Homo sapiens: one gene and its partner. The protein of the gene in region 1 purifies or fractionates together with the protein of each later gene. This does not show direct contact. Each region holds a gene or a part of one and is shown on either strand. Other genes may lie near its edges.

Region 1 (4,074 bases):
CACCTGGCTGGATTTGTGTTTGATCTTGGCTTTACCCTTTACTTGGTGGATCTGTTCCTACCTCTCCATTCCTGCCATCACTTAAGGATCCCCTACTACGGATGGGCTAGGTGTCTTGCTAATTCACAGACATCTTATTTAATCCTCACGACAAAGCTATGATGTAGGAACATATCTGAGCCCCATTTGCCAGATGAGGAAATGGGGGCTTAGACAGTTTAGTAACATGCCCAAGATCATATACTTGGCGAAGAGAAGAGCCAGAGCTTGAATCCTTCGTGTTAAGCTCATACCTGTGAGTTCAGCCAACTAACCAACAGCTACTTTTTTCTTCTTGATCTATATGGGTCATGATAATCCCCAAGCCGGGTCACTGAGTGGCTTAGAATGAGCTCATATGAAGTGCCCAGGTGAATGAGGGTCTCAAAGGTAATGTTGCTATAACAATCACCCTCACGTCAGCACACCCCAGCCCTGACCCACAATCTCTCCCTGGATTTAAAGTGTGTACTTGGCTCTAGGAACCTTCACCCTTCAGCCTGGCACACTTGGTGTCTGTCTGTGCTGACTCTCCGGATTTGGCCAACCTTCAAGCCCCTTCAACCTCATCTATGCCGTCACCTTGCCAGTTGGGTGGCTGCGTTTTCCTAAGTACAGACCCATGTGGTTTTCTGCACCTCTCAATAGTTCCCTCAGGCATGCAGCAGTGAGGGGCATGTCCCAGGCAGGGGTTGGGCACTTTGGGTGCCCATGGGCCCTCACAGGAGCAGTGCCATAGAAGCCCACAAACCCTTATGCAGGGATATGTGGGAGAAAGGAAAACACACAGACTCCAGACAGCAGGAACACAACCAGGAGGACAGGGCTGCCCTGAGGTACAAAGAGATGCTTCTGCACAGCATGAAGTATGCCTCAACATAGCATCTGGGGTAATCCCAGCATGAACTAGTTGCATAACCTTGCCCAAATCACTTTCCCTTCTTGGCCTTAGTTGCTTCATCTATAAAATGGGGAGGAATAGAGTTAGGTTACTAATTTTCCAAACAATAGTCCCTAGGCCTCCCCCCATTCTCAGGGATTCACAATGTACACCAGCCTATTTACGGCTTTGAAAAGTCCTGTAAAGCTAGGGAACTACTGACCTGGCCTAGCCCATTATCTTTTACCTTTCCTAGACCAGACAGCCTTTTAAGTAACATCAGTTAGCTTCCCTTGAACCAGTGTTCTGTGGAACATGCGTTGGCTAATTTTCAAGATTCTTCTGGTGCTAAAGATCTTTAATTCGACAGCCCCTGAGTCTGTGCTAGGGATTGGGAGGCCTGGTTAGCTGTGGGCCCTCTGGAATTTATGAGGCTCCCGCCCTCTGTTTTCTCAGCCATCACACAAGGACTTCAACACCTGTTCTCATGATCAATTGGGACAATTTTTTAGCTTTCTAACTGCTCTCCCTTCTCTCCAATTTTACATGGAGAATCACCTCTTCCTGCTTTCATCCAATGTGGCTTGGGTGGGGCCAGTCTCCCACTTGGCTCCAGGGACACACATGACCAGGCCTCGCCAATGAGGTAACAACACACATGACCAGGCCTGGCCAGTGAGGTAACAACACACATGACCAGGCCTGGCCAGTGAGGTAACAACACACATGACCAGGCCTGGCCAATGAGGTAACACATCCTCCTGGCCACAGTGACTGCATCATTGTGGACACGCGACCTCAGCTGGGCCAGCCAGACAGAATCCTGGCACTTTTGCCAGAAAGATTAGGCAAGAAGTGGTGCCCCCTTCTTGCTGGGGTTGCTAAGTGAGTGTTCGTCTCTCCTTCCACTTGTGGGGGATCCTGTCAGAGCGATCCTGGCAATGCAGAACTGGAGATGGTGACAAGTAGTTTCTTGACAACATCATTTGAGGGCCTAGATACAGCCAGTCCTGAAGCCATATGTGCTCCAATCAATCCTTTGCCTTTTAACTAGTTTGAGTTTAGTTTCTAATCCTAACTGAAAGAGACCCATTCCACCAATTTTACAAGGGACACAATGATAATTAAATGTTAAAGAAGGAAGAGGCCTTAAAGGCTGATAAAGCAATGCATGAGAAGTGCTTGGGAGGTAGGATGGGACAGTTACCCTATGTGGGCACAAGCCCAGATGCCTGGGAAGAAGGGACCGATCATGTAGACCTCAGCAACAGTGGGTAATGCTTAACCCAAAGAAGTGCTGTCCACTCTAGAAGTGGAATTGAGGGCCCTGCAATGTCAAACCTAAGCATAGGCTCAGTCCTGATAGGATGCATTCTAATACAGCCTTGCTACTCCACGTGCAGCCTGTGGGCCTGCAGCTTTGACGTCTCTTGGAGTTTGTTAGGAATGCAGAATCTCAGGCTCCACTCCAGACCTACTAAATCTGCATCTTAACTAGACCCCAGATGGCCCATGTGCATGATCAAAGTTGAGAAGCACTACCACAGCACTGTTGAAGTGACTGTGTAGCGTGTCCATAGACCCCTTCCTGCTGGTATGAACATCCTGCCCACCCACCAGGAAGTGGACAGTTTCCCCTCCCCTTTTATCTGGGCTCTCGCCCTATGGCTTAGTTAGCCCGGTAGAAGGTGATAAAAATGGTGCTGCCAGTTCTGGGCCTGGCAGCCTCTGCTTCCTCTCTCAGAAGCCAGCTGGGGACAGTGGTTCACACCTGTAATCCCAGCACTTTGTGAGGCCGAGGCAGAGGCCTGAGGTCAGGAGTTTGAGATCAGCCTGGCCAACATGGTGAAATCCCATCTCTACTAAAAACACAAAAATTAGCTGGGCATTGTGGCAGGCACCTGCAATCCCAGCTACTCAGGAGGCTGAGGCAGGAGAATCGCTTGAACCCAGGATTGGGAGGCGGAGGTTGCAGTGAGCCAAGATCACACCACTGCACTCCAGCCTGGGCAACAGAGCAAGACACTGTCAAAAAAAAAAAAAAAAAAAAAGTCAGCCTACTTGCCCTGAGACCTCCATGCTGTAAGAAAACCCAGACAAACCGCATAGAGATGTTTCTTGGAGAGCCCAAAAGTCCCAGCTGTGTGAGTGAGGCCTTCTTGGGCCACCCTGTCCAGCCTAGCCCCCAGCTGAGTGACCCTCAGTGACACAATGTGGAACTGAGTCCTGCTCACATTCCAGACCCAGAGAATTGGAAGAAATACGAATCTTTGCTGTTCTAGGCCGCTGTGCTCATGTTATTTTGTCACACAGCAGAAGTTACTGGGGCCATGACCGCCTTTCCTCCTCACTGAAGGAGGGGGCTGTCCTGCAGAATGTTCACACACTGTAAGCACCATACTGAGCACTTTCTGCCTCTCAGGCGCTGTTCCAGGCACAGAGATGGAGTGGGAGAGGGCAGACTGCATCCCTGCTCTGGTGAAACTGGGATTTTTATCCAGGGATAGGGCAGTAGACAAGAAAACACACAAACGTAACTTCAGAGAGATAAGGAGCAATTGGAATGGGGCTGGGGACACAATTAGGTAGAATAGGGAAGATCTTTCTGAAGACACACACTTGATCTGAGGCCCTCCTGTTGAACAGGGGCAAACCATAAAATGATCAGAGGAAAAAGTGATGCCGGCAGAGAGAACAGCAAATGCAAAAATCAAAAAGCACAGGAGGTCTGGGAGTGAAGGCAGAGGGAAAGGGAAAGCCAGGAGAGGGGAATGAGATCAGAGATGAAGTCACAAAAGTCAGCAGGGCCCAGAGCAGCAGCGTCTAGCACACCGCCACCAGCCACCGATGGCTATGTAATCTAAGCTTCCATTTAAACAACAAGCGCAGCTCCTCAGTCCCACTGGCCACATCCCAAGTGCCCAGTGGCCCTGTGTGCCTAGTGGCTATCATATGAGACAACACAGAGACAGAATATTCCCGTGACGGTTCTGTTGGCTGAGATGGCTATAGAATAACTCAGAAGCAGATCAGAACCAGGGTTCAAGGTCAGACCATGTGTTCTTGGGCTTAGTATTCCATTAAATTTCTGAAGGTTCCAGTTTTCCCCAGGGTTAAATGAGGCTTTTCCAGCCCAACAGTGGGTCCAAATTATC
Region 2 (4,074 bases), on another chromosome or scaffold:
TGGCCAGAACTTCCAACACTATGTTGAATAGGAGTGGTGAGAGAGTGCATCCCTGTCTTGTGCCAGTTTTCAAAGGGAATGCTTCCAGTTTTTGCCCATTCAGTATGATATTGGCTGTGGGTCTGTCATAGATAGCTCTTATTATTTTGAGATACGTCCCATCAATACCTAATTTATTGAGAGTTTTTAGCATGAAGGGTTGGAGCCTGGGATTCTAAGGACTTTGGGACCATAGGCAAGTTTCTTCAACTTTGGCCATTAGAGAGTTTTCAGTTACAAGACAAAGCAGCTGGGATGGATTTTTTTTCCTTTGGTCTCTTCTAAAATTAAATTTCCTAATTCTCTCTATATTCTTGTACCACTTCTCACTTAGGAACTCACTTATAAAAACCAGCCATGACCTGCCATTCCTTCCCCAGGAAACCCCGTCTGCTGCTCCTCTTCCTTTGCTTTCTTGAGTCACCCCATAATTAAACAAACAGAGATAGTGACATTGCCTGAGAGAAAGAAAGAGAACCAGATGATTCAAATTAAAATCTAAGCTACACAGGATAGGTCAATAGGCACCAACCTACCCAAAATGTAATCCTTTTTCAATCCCCAGACTAAACAGAGTAGGAAATAAAGCAGTTGGAATACCCTTAGTACAAACTCTGGTTCAAACTGATGCAACCAGTTCAAAACAAAATCATTACTTCTTCTAAGACCCCAACCATCCACAGAATGATTATGAGAAGTCTCACAACTGTCACAGGTCACTGGCTCCAAAATACTCCCTGAATGAAGATCTATCATTCACAGGGCAGAAAGTCATCCACCTCTACTTTCCATCTAGTTTTTTCTGACAAATAGCTCCAGTGGTAACTAAAAGTTAGAAACCTAAACCCATAAATGTCAATAAAATGTATATTTTTTACCTAAGGGAAGAATCACATGAGCACCCCCAATACTAGGCTTCTGAGAGTTATACTAAATGCCACTTACCTGGAAGAAGTTTGAAAATAAAGTCAGGGATAATATGAATGTAGAGGTCTCTACCATTTCTATCTTAAAATGTTTTCCCATATATCAAAATACACAATCAGTTTAAAAGGTCAATTAATCTCAATCCTCAATGTCCAAGAAGTTTCTTAAAGCTAAGCCAGAGTTTATTCTCAAATAACTGTTTGGCAAGTGAGAAGAAATGTGAAACATATCATTTACTCACATCGGATTCCAAAGTATTTATCTAAATCGACTCTAGAAATAAAGTATGCCAATCCATTCTCTAAAGGATTTTTCTCTTCTGCTTTTCAGTTAAGCCAAGTCTGAAATGACTTTTTAATTAATATATTGAATTCTTGTCTAGTATCAAAAACTTGGCCAATTGATGGCAGATAGGGAAAAAAGAAACACTTGAATCACTTCAACTAAGAGCTGTTTTGGTATAATCTAAACACAACTATCCTAGAGGAAAACGTATGACTTCACATGATTACATGGAGAATTTTATTTAAATAGGAAAAAAAAACTTTCCCAAAAAGTACACTGTAAAGGAATTATAACATCTATTAGAATGACCCGGTTCTATGGTCTTAGCAGGTACCACAGCCATCCTATCATGTCAGTCCCTTATAAGTTATAAAAATAGAACTCCTGCCATCCTAACAACCTTTGAAAGCCACTTGTTCTGCAATTCTGCTCCTGTGTTTCACCTGCATCCCTGATCGTCTCCAGCAGCCCTGATTCCTACACAGGAAGAGGCTCCACAGAACTTCAAGGTGAGTGTTATATATAAATACATGAACAGCAAGAGAGAGAGATCACTGATATACAAAAGAAAAGAAAGCTCTAGAGCTTTTGAAGGGCAGTGTGGGACTTCCCCACTCCACCCTACAATGTCTACGGATGCCAGAACTGTGGCAGGGAGCTCTGGGTCCTTTAATCCAGCCAGAAAGGCCACCTCTCAGTCCTAAGACCTCAGGAGAGCCAGGCCTCTGCCTGCCTACCTCCACAACACAGGCAGGTGGACGCACTCAAAGTGCTTACTCTTGATCTGTGAGGATTAATGAGCTAATTTCTACAGAGCCCTTTAAGCTGATTGGCCCAAACGCAACTAAATAAACCCCATCATTAACCACGGGCAAGATCAAATCCTCAGGATCCAGTGAGGCAAATTTTTAGACGTCAGGCAATGTTCCTCCTCCACAAGGTGAGGAAGGAGTATTTATCCCCAAAACTCAGAACTTCATCCAGAAAACATTTATTAAATATCTATTATGACATGCAGGGTAGGGAGATGAGAGACCCTGTCCTCAAGGAAGACTTAACAGTCTAGAGCCAGGCTGGCAAGGAAAATACAATTTGCAGATAGTGTGACAACTGCCAGGGAGCGAAAGACCCAACAGAGCCTGAAGGGCAAGGGGGGAGGGGGGCTCTAGAGGCAGAGATTGTTTGTGTGACAAGAAATCACTTGTTCAGGGTATGAGAAGAGAGGCCCAGTCAGGGTGCTGGTTACATGGTGTGTTCAATTCATGAACATGCACCAAGATATACATTTTTTATATGTACACTTTTCCACATGCATATTATACTTCAATAAGGGCAATATTTAAAAGAAAAGACAGAGCTCTTTGCTACATAGATGAAAAATGGAAGGGAAGGGTCTTGGAATGGTGTTCCAAGCAGAGGGAAATCTTGCCTAGAAGAGGCATTTCAGCAACTGCAAAAGGTTCCCACTGGCTGGAGAGTCTGTCCTGAGACTGGAAATTACAAGATGTGGCTGAAAAGGGAGGCAAGAGACAATTCCCAAAAGACCTTAAACACTGTGCTTCAAATTAAGTCTTGAGGGTGACGGGAGAGCTACTAAAGGCATTTCAGCCTGGGAGCAACGTGATCAAGAATTTTGGTATAGCAGTATCTTTCTGGTAGCAATGCACACTACAGCCAGAAACAAGAATGGAAAAAAGGAACCTGGTTAGGAAATTATTACAATAATCCAAATAAGAATCGATAAGGGCCTGAACTAAACCAGTGGTGGCTGACATGAAGAGTCAGAGTCAAATCAAAGAAGATCTCAAGGAGGTGGAGTATTTAGGACTTGGTGACCAAACAGATGTGAGAGATGGACAAAGACAGGAAAGTATAGGATGGCCAGCAGGTTTTGCCCTTGAGGGCTCTAAAGATGATGAATATAGAAGAAACAAGATTAGGACTGAGGCCAGGGTGGAGAGACAATGAGTTTAACTGTATGAAGTTCCTGTGAAACATTCAAACGAAGACATTAAAAAGGTAGTCCAAACACTGGTATACAGTCAGGAAGACCCTCAGCATTTGATGTGGTAATTGAAGCTTCAGACAGACAGAGATGTGGATCTGGGGCAGGCAAGGGAGTACAGGAAGTCCAGAAGGAAGGCATGGCATGGAAGCTCAAGCAAATGCCTTTCCAAAAGGAGAATGAAAGATGGCACCTAACCCTGCAGAGAGCAGAGAAAAGGACTGCAGTGTCCACTGGCTCTGGCCACAGAAGAGTCACAGTGATTTCAGAGAGTAACTTGGGTTTCTTAGGGAAAGGGCAGAAGCCAGACTGCAGTGGGCTGAGAGGGAATGGGAGGTTCCTTCCAACAATTTAGCAGTGAAAGGAAGAAACGAGATAACCGAGTAGCCAGAGGAGAAAGAAGTAGGGAGAGTGTTTTGTTTTGTTCTCTTTTGTCATTTAAACATAAGAGACAGGCTTGAGAATATTTATAAACTGAGGGAAAAGCAAAGAGGGAAAGAAGGAGACAGGGAAGCAATGGTGATGACTTTATCTGAAAATGAAGGCCTCTGTCCTCGCACTGGCTGGGACACACAGGGAGCGTTTCTTTTAGTCAGCAGCATTTCCTGCCAGCATGGCAGCCTCCGGGCAAACTCAGAGGTGGAGGAAAAGTGCAGTCCTAGCAGGTTGTTCTCGGAGCCCTCTCATAATGGGCTGCTCCTCTTCAGCAACCTTCCCGCAGGATGCTCTCATCACTTGTCAGAGGGCCATTTGGCACCTAAACCCCTGAGCTGTCCAAATTGCCAGGAGCTCCACAGGTCTCTTCAGTTTCCTCCCAC

The links. The genes of interacting proteins can lie anywhere in the genome.
Region 2: the proteins of BANF2 (region 1) and STK39 purify together in Homo sapiens (affinity purification with mass spectrometry; one large-scale study listed by BioGRID and IntAct). This does not show direct contact.

The regions. Positions count from the first base shown.
Region 1 is NC_000020.11:17,702,637-17,706,710, reverse strand, and holds part of BANF2 (barrier-to-autointegration factor-like protein), read right to left. Parts: intron 1-4,074. UniProt on the Homo sapiens protein: May play a role in BANF1 regulation and influence tissue-specific roles of BANF1.
Region 2 is NC_000002.12:168,237,459-168,241,532, forward strand, and holds part of STK39 (STE20/SPS1-related proline-alanine-rich protein kinase), read right to left. Parts: intron 1-4,074. UniProt on the Homo sapiens protein: Effector serine/threonine-protein kinase component of the WNK-SPAK/OSR1 kinase cascade, which is involved in various processes, such as ion transport, response to hypertonic stress and blood pressure.